3 separate regions of the Homo sapiens genome follow, and regions 1 and 2 are each linked to region 3. Evidence: fine-mapped expression QTL. A gene starts in region 3. Each other region holds a variant in brackets. All regions are shown on one strand. Distances are between the middles of the regions.

Region 1 (4,241 bases), 430 kb after region 3:
CCTAATCACAGAACTAGGCTTTAAGTTCAAGTGTTGCTTCCTCTGGGAAACTTCCCCTGAGTTGACTCCTGCCCACAGGTGCGTAAAGCTCTCTCTCTTTTAAGTCAGCACGCTCATAGGATGCCATGCACTGTGCTGTCATCGCAGAGTACAGACTCTCCTAGTAGCCTCCTTGACTCAGGCAGTAAGAAGTGTCCTACTCATCCTCTGTCCTCAGCAGCTACCACATGACATGGTCAGTGCTAAAGAAATGCCTTTGGTTGAATGAAATGGAAAATACTATGAAAATGAGAACTATACGTCAACACAGTAATTTACTAATGTTGTTTCTTCTACGAGCTCTCAAATCAGAGCATTTAACTTCAATATTTCCTTCTCTGTAAAGCAAAATGAAGGAGATGGATAATTATAAAGATTTTTAATAATTATCCCAAATGTAAAAACTCCCAAAAGTAAAAAGAAGCTATGAACATATTTGCTATATCCTTTTAGAACTGTTCGGAGTAAATAAAAAGAATCCATTAGCTATCAGCTATTTTTCTGACTCTTTATATTTTGACCTTAGAATTCACAATAACAATATTATTTTTACTCTACAACACAACAAATCCAGCACCATATTTTAGGAGAGTTGGGCCGTAAAGAAGAAGCTGATGGCAGGAGTGGAGTAATCAGTCAGAAATTCTTAGAACAGCATAGTCATTTTAATAACAACAAAATGGTCCTTCTTCTCCTGAAACAGAAAGTGGAAGGAAAGGGCTAAGGAAGTGGATGTGAAGAGGTCATCTTTGTTGCTGTCAAAGCTGTGGTCAATTACTTTGCCACAAGGCTTTGGCCAGGAAGGAAGTTTATTCCTTTGAAGAGACACCTGGGGAAGGAGGAAAGAAAGGGTTTTTGCTTTCACATTGATTAACCACATCTTAGCTGTCTATTCGTTCATTTCAGTTTAAAGAGAAATCTTCCCAGTGTGTGCTATGCCATGAAGATGAATTAGATTCCTCTGGTGGAGCTTTACAGCCTAGTGATGGCAAAGACATTTTTTTAAAAAGATTCTTTCCAATATTATGTATACATGCTGTTGATGAAGAGGCAAGCTACAGTGGTGGCTTAAAGGCTGGCACAAAGCTGGTCAAGTCAAGCTTCAAGGATGATGAATACAGTGAATCCAGTTTATAAAGGCGGGAAGCCTGTTTCAAGCAGAAAGTAGTCAGGGAAGATGAGGGGGCATTCTGACCTCATCTTTGATGCTGAGAATTTTTGAGTCTGTGTTTATGAATATAAGCTTCTAAGTTTACACTTGACCATCATGGATGGATTTTACCTGGCTAGCAATATTAGGCATAAATGGCATCAAGCCAATTTAGTTCCAGGACAGGGAATGCTGGGAGACAATGATGGATAGTGGTAAAGGGCCAGCCCCGGTCTGTGTGTGTTATGGTTGAAGCACCTGGACTTGCTTTTGTAGGTTACAGTGGCTGCTATAGGGTATGAGGCATGGCAGTGAGGTTAAATCTGGGTTCTGGCTAGATCCTAGGTCCCAGTTTTCTGGGTTCTGGCTAAATCTAGGTCCCAGTTTTTGAGATTCTAAATGCTAGTAAAATGAGTGGAAATTTTTTAAAAAACCCAGCTTGTTTATAAGGTTGTGTACTTTTCATTCTACAAGCAGGTACATAATTTTTTAAAATTTCAAATCTATGATCACAATAAATCATTTCAAAATAGGAAGTGATTTTAAATCTTTTAAATCATCAATTTAAGCTGTAAGTTGTACTGTCTTTGTTTTTCTTATCTCTTCTGCAGTTTGGTGAAAATGTCATCCTGGACCAGCATTTAGTAGACCAACAATTAGGAGCAGTGGAATAGGTCATTCTGGAGCTAGGTAGAGGGGCAATGCTAGGGACAGGGAGCCTAATTAATAACTAAAATAGACACATTATTTCTTTTTCTTTTCTTTTTTTGTTTTTGAGATAGAGTTTCGCTCCTCTTGCCCAGGCTGGAGTGTAATGGTGTGATGTTGGCTTACTGCAGCCTCCGTCTCCCAGGTTCAAGGGATTCTCCTGCCTCAGCCT[T/C]CCAAGTAGCTGAGATTACAGGATGCACCACCATGCCTGGCTGATTTTGGTATTTTTAGTAGAGATGGGGTTTGCCATGTTGGCCAGGCTGGTCTCAAACTCCTGACCTCAGGTGATCCACCCGTCTCTCGGCCTCCTGAAGTGCTGGGATTACAGGCATGAGCCACCGCGCCCGGCCAGATAACAGCATTATTTCAAGACTACAAAGTTTAAGATTATGACTCAACACCACATGCCTTTTTCTGATTTTCATCTGACAAACGCCTGTGGTTTAGAGGCCTCCACAGTAAGGATTTTGGATGATTGGTTAAAGAACTTTTGAGGGAGAGGGAACATGACTAGGATGAAAAAGAAACAGATGAGGAAAGTGAAAAAGATGGTGACTTGAAATCAAGACACTAAAGGCTACTGTATTCCCAAACCACGGTGGGTTCTGCCGGTGGCCCCAAGCGGGTGTTTGTTTTGGGTTACTGTGAAGATTAAGAGGTCAGGATCCAGTCTAAAGCAGCTAATGATGTATGTGAGGCCTCTGCATCACTGAGAGAATGAAGTGGAGGAGGTTATAAAACCGACCCCAGGAAGGTGGCTCATGAACGAGAACTCAGGAACAACCACCACATCTGCAGTAATCTCAAGAGAAGTGACTTTTGCACAAGGCAAGGTTGTGCTGGCAGTGAGGAGGAGGCAAAACGGGCATTTGCTAGCGTTATACATCAGGCTTAAATTTAAAGGCAGATTTTGTGTGCTAGGGAGTTGATTCCTAATATTGTTCTGTCCCAGTTGGCCTCACTGTGATTACCATAGAAGGGTTCAGCTGTGGCATTAGTTAAGCTATTCAAGCCAGGCCCTCTCTCTCTTCCTCCCTCCCCCTTTCCCTCTTGTCCTTTCCTTCCTTTCTTTCTTCCATCAAGATGAGTTCTTGCTGTGTTGCCCAGGCTGGAGTGCAGTGGCTATACATAGGTGTGATCATTGCACACTACAGCCTCAAACTCCTGGGCTCAAGTGATCCTCCCACCTCAGCCTCCTGAGCAGCTGGGACTACAGACACATGCCACCACACCCAACTAATTAAGAAAACCTTTTTTTTAGAGACAAGGTCTTGCTATGTTGCCCAGGCTGGTCTCAAACCCCTGGGCTCCAGCGATTCTCCCACCTCAGCCTCCTGAGTAGCTAGGATTACAGGCGTCAGCTACTGTGCCCAGCAGGCCAGACTTTTTCTAGGTCCTTCAAAGCTAACAAGCATCAAGGAAGTTACATATGTGATGCTGAGACTGATTGAGTCAGGTGGCTTTTGTTTTTACTTTCAATTCTAGAGCAAAGTTTCAGTTAACTGGAATTCTGCTAACTCAAATCTCAAGGCCAGAGCTGGTTCTGGGCAAAACCATGGAATGGGCCTCAGAGTTCAATGCCCCATTTACCTGTTTTCCATCAGAGGTTCAGCTTTCAGTTCTAGGTTTCTTAAATTTTAAAGTATTGCTTTTGTTGGGGAACATTTCCATGACCCCAAATAGATTATTTTATGGGGAATTAGGAGTTAACAAGGAGAGAAGATGTTTAATCAGAAGATGGCTGTTCAATGTTACAAACTATTCCAAAATTCATCCTGCAGAGACCTGGAATGGTCCCAGTGATTTCTTGAGTCAATAGTGAAATTAAAAACCTTACTTCTAAGACTTAAATTGGCTTGGCAAATTAGAATTCACTCACATTTCTGGAGTTTGAAATAATCTCTTCCCTCTCTACCAGGACATATCTCAACCTCAAACCTCTACTTCCTGCAACTAACACAGTTTCAAGAAAATATCGGCATAAATTAAGTCATGTAAGCAGCGTCTGTATTACTTATTAAAAGCCTCCCGCTAGGCACAATAGGCACTTGCATTCAAGTGCTGAATTAATGAAAAAGGCATTTTGAATTTTCCATTGAAACGTGCCTTTCCTTTGCACCACAGTTTAACTTCTTTCTAAATGCAGCTTTTAGTAGAAAATGACAACAATTATGAGCCCTTTGAGATTTAAAATCTGAAACTCAAATTATCAAGCCTTAATAAAAGCCTAATAAATTCCTTTATGTGTTATATTATGTCTGCTTAATTACTCCAAGCCCATAAAAGAAGCCATGCAGAAGCAGAGTTTATATGTTAGCTTTACAGAAGAGTGAATTTTGAGACT
Region 2 (4,241 bases), 770 kb before region 3:
CTCTCATATCTTTGGTATTTTCCATTATAATAAAAGAGAGATTTCCAGGACTAAAGTTACTGGGTACTACAGACAGGAAGAAATTTTAGAAATGGTTATAAACTACCACCCACAAATTAAGCTTTTTTAGGGTTTGGAATTTTTAATTCCAAGACAATTTTTAAATAAATTGTCTTTGGATGAGGTCATGCCTGTGTGTTATTATATGTACTCCTAGTCATTAAAGACCAAAATGGAAATCCAGAGAGCACTGCACTAAAAACAAGCTTAATGCTGACAGCATTTATGACCTACATGCCTAATCCCATAGGTCTCCAGGCTCACAAGAAAACTGTTTCTCTTGAGATGCCCAAGTTGTCATTGCATGTCAGGGAAACTCAGGTATAAACAGGTACTTAAAAATAAGGGTAAGCTTTGCTGGCTACTTAAAGCAAATTGAGCTTTTGAAACTGATGAGGTGTACCCCGTTGAAATGTTGGCATCAGTCTGGAGCCCAATGCAAACAAGAAACAACAAGGGGAAAGACAATGGAGGAGGAATCAGGAGGAATCATAATAGAAAGGAATTGCCTGCTGGTTGCTAACATTTCCATATGGACACAAGCAGCAAAATTACAAAAGATCAAAGAGCAATCCAAAGAAGAAGGGAGTGTTCAGTCTCATAATTGTGCATGTGTGTGAACATACAGCCTTCTGTAAGAATAACAGCAGAAACATGTTTTTGCAAGTGAGGTCCAATGTATGCCAGCTAATGGGGGTGCCTGGCTGAACCTCAGTATGCAAAAATCTACTCTACATTTGTTAAAGATGCTACTGATTAATGGTATCTCAAATCTGTAATAACAGTTAACAGATGCACAAGGGGGAAATGTCCTCAATACAAATGCTGTAGGCTTCCAAACCTCATTGTAATTATTCCATTTGTGGTCAAGTGCTAGCAACCCATTTTACAGCTAAAGCCTAAGGCAAAATAATTTTGCCCACCATGACATTGAGGGAGAAGTTGAGGCGCAAAGGGACAACTCATTCTCCAACTCTTTACGTGTCAGCACTACATATGAAGTTTCTCTTGTGTCTGTTTTAAACTAGATACAAGAAACAATTTCACAAGAAATTGTGAAACTGTGTCTTTCACAAGAAGCAATTTCAATCTTTGCACCCAGAGAATAGCTTCTCTATGTAATTCTAATCTGATGAAATCACTGATTTTCCTGTGTTAAGAGGTTAGTGAGTTCTATTTCACAACAGATAGGCTCACTCCACATTTGGTAAACTCTGCCCCAACTGCGAAATTTTAAACAAATTTAATTCTTGGTAAATGTATTATTAACTACTATTAATACATAAGAAAATAATAACGTAATGAAAAAATGTTTAATAGTAACATAATGAACATAAAAATAATATTAGGAAATGCAGAAAAAAGCTTGGTATATCTCAAAATACATAACTGTTCAAGAGCGCATTGGCCCAAATCACCAGTTTTTTCATTCATTAATTTCTGTTATGGTTTGAATGTGTTTTCCACAGTTAATGTGTTGGAAAGTTAATCCCCAGTGCAACAGTGTTGAGAGGTAGGACCTTTAAGAGGTGATTATGTCATGAGGACTCTGGATGAATGGATTCTTATCAGAAGCTTGCTATAAAAGCTGAATTTGGCCTACTCTTGCTCTCTCTCACCATGTCATGCTTTCTGCCATTTTATGACACAGCAAGAAGGCCCTTACCAGATGCAACCCCTCATTCTTGGACTTACCAACCTCTAGAGCCAATCAATCGCTTTACTTTATAAATTACCTAGTCTTAGGTGTTCTGTTACAGCAACAGAAAATGGACTGAGACAATTTCCTTGGGAAAGTAAACAGAATGGGCTTTGAAGGAGTCTCTCACTGAATTTAGAAAACAAAATGACGAAGACACAACTTTCAACACTTCATTATATTACTAGGTTTAATGGTTGCAATTACATATGGCTTTATAGACTCAAAAGTGCTTTGCAACCTTTAATTAGTCCATCTTCCCAAGTCCACCTCCATTTTTGGATGACAGCACTGAGA[T/C]ATATTGGTTATGATTTGCCCTCCAGTAGCCAAGTAAGTCAGAAGCCCAGTTCAGAGTAAAACCAAGTCTCCAAAACAGAACCAATGCATGGGCACTGGGATTCTGGCTCACCTCTCATTCTACAGCATAGCTGGAATTTTGTTTAAAATGTGAAAGCATGCAAACAATGTTTTATCACCAGATATAGGGAGGTTTTGTTGTTATTAATCAACTTTTTATTGTATTTTCCCTTCGGATATAACTGCAAGTCAAATATAAGTAAATACTTTTTCCTCTTGCTCTATCTTCTAACTTCCAGTTCTCTTACCCACTTGCCCTCATTTGGAACACAATTTTCACTTTTAGAAAGATGTTTCCTTAGAGTTTGGAAAATTAATTTGATTAAGAGTGAGAGTCTGTAATCCCAGCACTTTGGGAGGCCAAGGCGGGTGGATCACGATGTCAGGAGTTCAAAAACAGCCTGGCCAAAATGGTGACACCCTGTCTCTACTATAAATACAAAAAATTATTACCTGGTGGCGGGTACCTGTAATCCTAGCTACTCGGGAGGCTGAGGCAGAGAATTGCTTGAACCCGGGAGGTGGAGGTTGCAGTGAGCCGAGATCATGCCACTGCACTCCAGCCTGGGTGACAGAGTGAGACTCCGTCTCAAAAAGAAAAAAAAGAGTGAGAGTCAGTGCGAACGTGTGTGTGTGTGTGTGTGTGTGTGCGCGTGTGTGTGTGTGTTAGGGCCAGTGCAGTTAAAAATACTATCACATTCAAGAATTCCAATGTAAGCAGTCTTATAAACCTTAAAAATGTCATTTAAATCACATATTTAATAGGAAGCTTTAAGAAAGAGACAGAGACTCATTGTGAGCTTTTTTCATGTGCCTGTCTCTGGCTCACCTTCCAGCTGCTTTGCAGGGGGATCAAGGTGGGTGAGCAACTCGCTCCAAGCCCTGAGGTGCTGTATCCCAGCTGCCAATATCTTCATAGGGTCACTGAGCAGGCATATAACTCATTCCATTTGTAACCATGAGAAATAGAGTCCCCCAGGGAAAATATGCACTTCCCGTATGTTCTGCCCTGTGCACTGGTCTAGGTGAATCACTATCCAGGAGGGAAAGGGGAAGGGATGTGTCTTGACACATTATTTCCTCACAGATATCAGAGCATCATTTCAAGGATAGTATACTGCCTTAAACAGACCACCTATCTGATCCAGCCATGGAGATGGGATGCTTTTAGGAGCTTTCCAGTAAATGCCTCTAAATTCTATTGCTAAGGCTTCCACAAAACTATCAAAAAAAGAAATGCTTTGATGTGTGTCCCCTCTAAGCACTGTGCCACAATTCATAACCTCCACACCCAGCCCCTTCCATCCTTTTCTCAGTCCCTTTTCTGTCCTCCCCTCCGCCCACCGTGGAGCTCGGCCATGCTGTATGCCTTCCTGCTCACATGAACTGCAGTTGCTGGAAAAATGAAGCCAAAAGAAACAGCCAATAAAAACAGAAACAGCTGTAACAATTTTGCACAGCATGGTCTTGATTTCCTTGAGTTTTTTACTTTTGCCTCTTTTTTTTTCCTCCTCTTTTTCTTCTCCCTTCAGCTCCCTTTTCCATACAACACCTTCTGTGTTGGGGCTTGGAATGGAGCAAGAAATACTTCCCTCTTCTGCAAACGCTTTGTGATTCAGAAACAATGTTGGAGTCCATTTTGAATCACTAGTTCCAAAACAAGCAGAACCCCAGAGAGGCATGGAGTGCAGGGAGGAGGAGGAACAGAAACAAGGGAAATGAGTTGAGAATCTTGCCACCAAAGACAGGTGCAAAGATTTACAAAAATAAGAATAACAGACCCAGCTCTCAAATTTGCTCCTTCTCAGGCTGCTATTGCCAGTGGCTGTGCCTGTTGTGAGTTGAGCTCACAGAAGCGGTTCTTTTTATTTCATGGAATGTTTGCACTCACCTCCCTAAATGGACCCTGTTCTGAAGCCTCTATTGAACTGTTGTTTACAGTAGCCTCACTTTACATCTATCTCCTCTTCCCCAAAAACCAAGGCATGACAAGGTAGCTTGTAAATGCAAAAGGCTACTGGAGGAGCAATGTTAGTAGTTTCAGAGAAGAAAAGGAGAAAGAATGACTCAAAGCACTGAACAAATATAAAAGGAAACACTAACAGCAGATTGCAATCAGTACTGT
Region 3 (4,241 bases):
CGCGGGTCCAAAACGCCGCCGCGCTCCTTGATCCGACGACGAGAACGCGGGCGAAGCCAGCCCTGCTTACTTTTTCTTTCTTTTTTCCCTTTTCTCTTTAAACTCTTCGTCTGTCCTTTTCGTTTCTTTTTTTCACTTTTTTTTTCTCCTCTCCTACCCCCCCCGGCCCTTCTCCCTGCCTGCGCGCCCTTCAGTAGGTGAAAACCAGGTTGGAGATGCTGGACTCGAGCCAGTCTCCCGAGATCATCTCGCTCACCTCGGGCGTGCAGTAGTCCGGGAACTCGAAGTGCGAGCCGGAGCCGGGCTCGAAGTTAAAATCCAGGTCCCGGTCGAGCGCCGACGACGAACTGAAGCTGCCCAGGGACATGCTCTCAAAGTTTGAGCTGGGGTTCAGGTCGAGCAGGTCGTCTTCGAACTCGTCGTCGGAGGACGAGGAGCCCGAGGAGGAGGAAGAGGAGGAGTGGGACGAGGCCGAGGAGGACGCGTGCGAGGGCGCGCTGGACGGGGCGGGCGAGGCGGCGCGCAGGCTGGCGTAGCCGCGGTGGTCGGCGGGCGAGCGGCCGGCGGCGGGGGACGAGGCGGCGCTGCTGCGGCCGCTCAGGCTGGGCGCGTCGGGCGAGCAGCCCGCGCCCTCCTCCTCGTACAGGCCCAGGGGGTCGCTGGGGTCGGCTCCCGCGCCCACGCCGCCCACGGGCGACGACGACGTGCCCAGGCCGCCGAACAGGTAGACGCGCTTCACCTTCTTCTCCGCCAGGTGCTTGCCCGGGGCCGCGAGCGCTGCGGAGGCCGAGGCTGCCGAGGAGGCGGAGGCCGAGGCGCTGGGAGTCCGCGCCTTGTACAGCGAGTGGTGGTCGGCGGCGGCGCCCAGGGGCAGCAGGGCGGCGGCCCCCGCCTGTTCGGCGGCGAAGGAGGCGGCGGCGGCAGCCGCTGCTTTCCCGCCGCCGCCGCCGCCTGCCAGGATGAGCTTGGCGTGCGGTTTGCTAACCCCACCGCCCGCGCCGCCCGCCACTTTGGAGCCGCAGCTCTTTTTCTGCGCCGGTTTGGAGTTGGCGCCGCCGCCACTCGCACCGCCGCCTCCTCCCCCCGCGTTGCTGCTCCCGCCGCCGCCGCCGCCCCCATGGCCGCCCCCGCCACTGCCACCGACCTTGTCTCCCTTCTCCCCCGGCTTGGAGGAGGCGGCGGCCGAGGAGCTGGAGTTGGCGTTGCCGGACTTCACCTTCTTCCTGGGCCGGTACTTGTAGTCGGGGTAGTCAGCCATGTGCTTGAGGCGCAGCCGCTCCGCCTCTCGAATGAAAGGGATCTTGTCGCTGTCTTTGAGCAGCTTCCAGCGTTTGCCCAGCCGCTTGGAGATCTCGGCGTTGTGCATGTCGGGCGACTGCTCCATGATCTTGCGCCGCTCGATCTGCGACCACACCATGAAGGCGTTCATGGGTCGCTTGATGTGCCCACTCGGGGTCTTGCACCAGCTCGGGTCGTCGGCCTTGCCGCCCGTGGAGGCGGTGGAGCCGGGCGTGGGGGAGGAGGCGATTCCCAGCTCGAGGCCGGCGCCCGAGTCCGAGCTCTCGCCGGCCAGCAGCGCTTCCGTGTTCTCGGCATTGTTGGTTTGCTGCACCATGGCCTCGGCTCGGCGGGCGCCCACGCGCGCTCACACCCTCGCGGCGGCCGCCGCGCGATCGCCGGGCCCTCCCGGTTCCCCGGGCCAAGCACACGCCGAACGGGAAGACGCGCGCGGCGGCCGAACTGGCCCCTCAACTCCTCGCAGGGGCGGAGGTGGGTAAAGAGAGAAAAGTCCCCAAAAGATTTGGGGAAGGAGTTCTCCGCCTCTCGCAGAGGAGTTATAGTTCCCAGGCTGGAGAGTCTCTCTCTCCCTCTCTCTCGCTCTCTCACCGCGCTGCAGTTTGCTGTCTCTCGGCTGAGTCTGGAGACCGTGCTAAAGTAGAGAGGAGTTTCTCGAATGCTGGTTGCTGAAGCTTCCAATGCAAGTTTCTCGCGGCCTCCCAGGCAAGTCTTTTTTTTTTTTTTTTCTTTTTCCCTGAAGCAGTTGATTCCAGTTCACGAGCGCTCTCGGTAGCTCAGGAAAGCGACATAGTCTCTAGCACTTAGTCCCTCTCCTACAATGCAAAGCAAAAAAGACTGTGGCTCCAGGACTCTCTGTGGGCGGAATCGGCACTAAGGAGTTGGTGCAATTATTTTGTTGCAAGGTAGGAAGCCAAAAAGCCTGCATGCAACAGACTGGCATGAATAAATGTATGTTTCCCCCTCCCTTCTGCAAGAAGGGAGCTGGTAATGGCAGGAGTTCCTCCAGTGCAGACTCTTAAAGAGCGTGCAAGAACTAGAGACCCGACAGCGAAACAGGCCTCTTCCCCTCACACACAGTTTCTCTTGCTGCAGCTTAGAGCAGACCCCAATTCCGCCTCGCGCCTCTTTATCCTTTCACAGTCTTGGCTGCAGCCAATCAGCTGCTGTAACCAACGCTTCCTCATGCCAAACCCCTCCCCCGGGCTTCCCATTGGCTTGGAACCCGATGCAATAATAATCTCCGCGTGCAATGAGAAGCTCCAAATCTGACCTCATTCCAATTTACAGAGCAAACTTTTTAAAAGGGCTAGAAGTACAGCTGAGATTTCTGCTGCCTCTTTTTTCCTTTTGCTGTGTGTGTGCGCGCGCGTGTGTGTGCGCGCGTGCGTGTGTGTATAGTGTGTGAAGAGGATGTTAATGCATGAAATTATTAAGGGGAGAGACGGAAATGTATTCTAACCATTATGTTAGATAACAAGGGGCTTGGAACGGGGCGGGGTAAGGGTGAAATACTGTAAATGGAAGCTTTCTGCTTAAAAGCCAAGTGATTATTTTTATTAGTTCTTTTCAGCATTGGAATAAAGAATCAGCCTCTGGTGCAAAATCTGTTCCCCAGCTCTTTCTTAAAGCCAAAGCTGTAAAGGGGAAGAGAAAGCCACAAAACAATAAATCAATGGATATTGAAAACCATTAAGAAAGTGGTACCTAGACACCTGTCATCACAATTATTTTAACAACTCTAGGTACAGCACAGATGTTGATGTATTGTGTAAATCCCTTCAGAACCGTTTTTGTGCTGTTTGTGGAAGGCAGGGAAGAGGACTTTGCAATAATTGCTTACTCTCTTAACCAAGCAAGGGTCAACTATGGTTATTTAATGATTTAAACTCCCTGTAAATCCTGCATAGCCCAAACAGGGGAGCTTTCCCTTGAAACACATTAGGTAGTGCTCCGTAATTACCTCAATAGGCAGATTTCCAGAGTTTTGTATAGGATGTATAATGGCATGTAAAGGATGGAAATCGGTTTTACTTTCTAAATATTTGTTTTCCCTGTTTTCAAAATTAAAGATTGCTTCACTCTCTTCCCTCTCCTCCTCCCAAAGCCATCTTCCTCCTTTCCTTCTTATATATTTCCTCTTGTTACTTGAATCGAAGGGAACTGAAAAACCAAGGCAAAGAGAAACTGTAGAAGGAGGTGATAACTGGTAGCAGAAGAGAATGGGGCCTCCGGATTCATAGTAGACCTGGCTGCTAATCCTTCTTAATGGTTTGTAACTATGGGGATGTGGCCAAGTCTCAGTTTTCCTCATCTATTATATGGGAACACTAGGAGCTACTTTATAGAGGGTTGTTGTGAGGGTTCAATGAATTTGTGACTATGAAGCACCTGATGTATTGTAAGCCCTCAATGAATACTAATATCTTCCTTTCTAATTCAAATGCCAGACACACTCCTAGTAAAAGCTGCATGTTGTTCAAGAGGCTAAAACAGAATAGCCACTTATGTAAAAAAGTAATAACAGGCAGGACGCGGTGGCTCACGCCTGTAATCCCAGCACTTTGGGAGGCTAAGGTGGGTGGATCACTTCAGGTCAGGAGTTCGAGACCAGCCTGGTCAACATGGTGAAACCCTGTCTCTACTAAAAATTAAAAAATTAAAAAATTAGCTGGGCAGGGATGCATGCGCCTGTAATTCCAGCTACTCGAGAAGCTAAGGCGGGAGAATTGCTTGAACCCAGGAGGTTGCAGTGAGCTAAGATTGAGCCACTGCACTCCAGTGTGGGTGATAGCGTGTGACTATCTCAAAAAAAAAAAAAAAGTAATCACAGATCATTGATGTGAACCATAGAAGGACAATAGTGGCAACCCTGCCATTCCATTGATTTTAAAAGAAAGGAACTCCATGAAGAATACTAAGAAGAATGTGGCAAAGAAAGGATG

What was found. PIP is the estimated chance that this variant, and not a neighbour inherited with it, causes the effect.
Region 1: its variant is the best candidate, but not a certain one, in a credible set for the expression of SOX4 in whole blood (INTERVAL, PIP 0.80).
Region 2: its variant is the best candidate, but not a certain one, in a credible set for the expression of SOX4 in blood mononuclear cells (TOPMed, PIP 0.56).

What each region holds. Positions count from the first base shown.
Region 1 is chr6:21,161,675-21,165,915 of GRCh38, reverse strand. All of the region lies in intron 13 of CDKAL1 (CDKAL1 threonylcarbamoyladenosine tRNA methylthiotransferase), which reads right to left. Among named protein-coding and RNA genes, the nearest start is that of LINC00581, 350 kb to the left of the region's middle. RefSeq lists cis regulatory regions at 2,002, 2,016, 2,228 and enhancers at 1,930-2,074, 1,944-2,088, 2,156-2,300. The variant T/C (reference allele first, on the strand shown) is at 2,070.
Region 2 is chr6:22,363,349-22,367,589 of GRCh38, reverse strand. It overlaps a transcript of LOC105374971 not described here. Among named protein-coding and RNA genes, the nearest start is that of PRL, 68 kb to the right of the region's middle. The variant T/C (reference allele first, on the strand shown) is at 2,057.
Region 3 is chr6:21,591,909-21,596,149 of GRCh38, reverse strand. It overlaps SOX4 (SRY-box transcription factor 4), which reads right to left and starts at 2,399. Exons shown (of 1, transcript NM_003107.3): 1 at 1-2,399. The coding sequence starts at 1,615. The coding sequence ends at 191. RefSeq lists silencers at 649-698, 749-838, 1,609-1,788.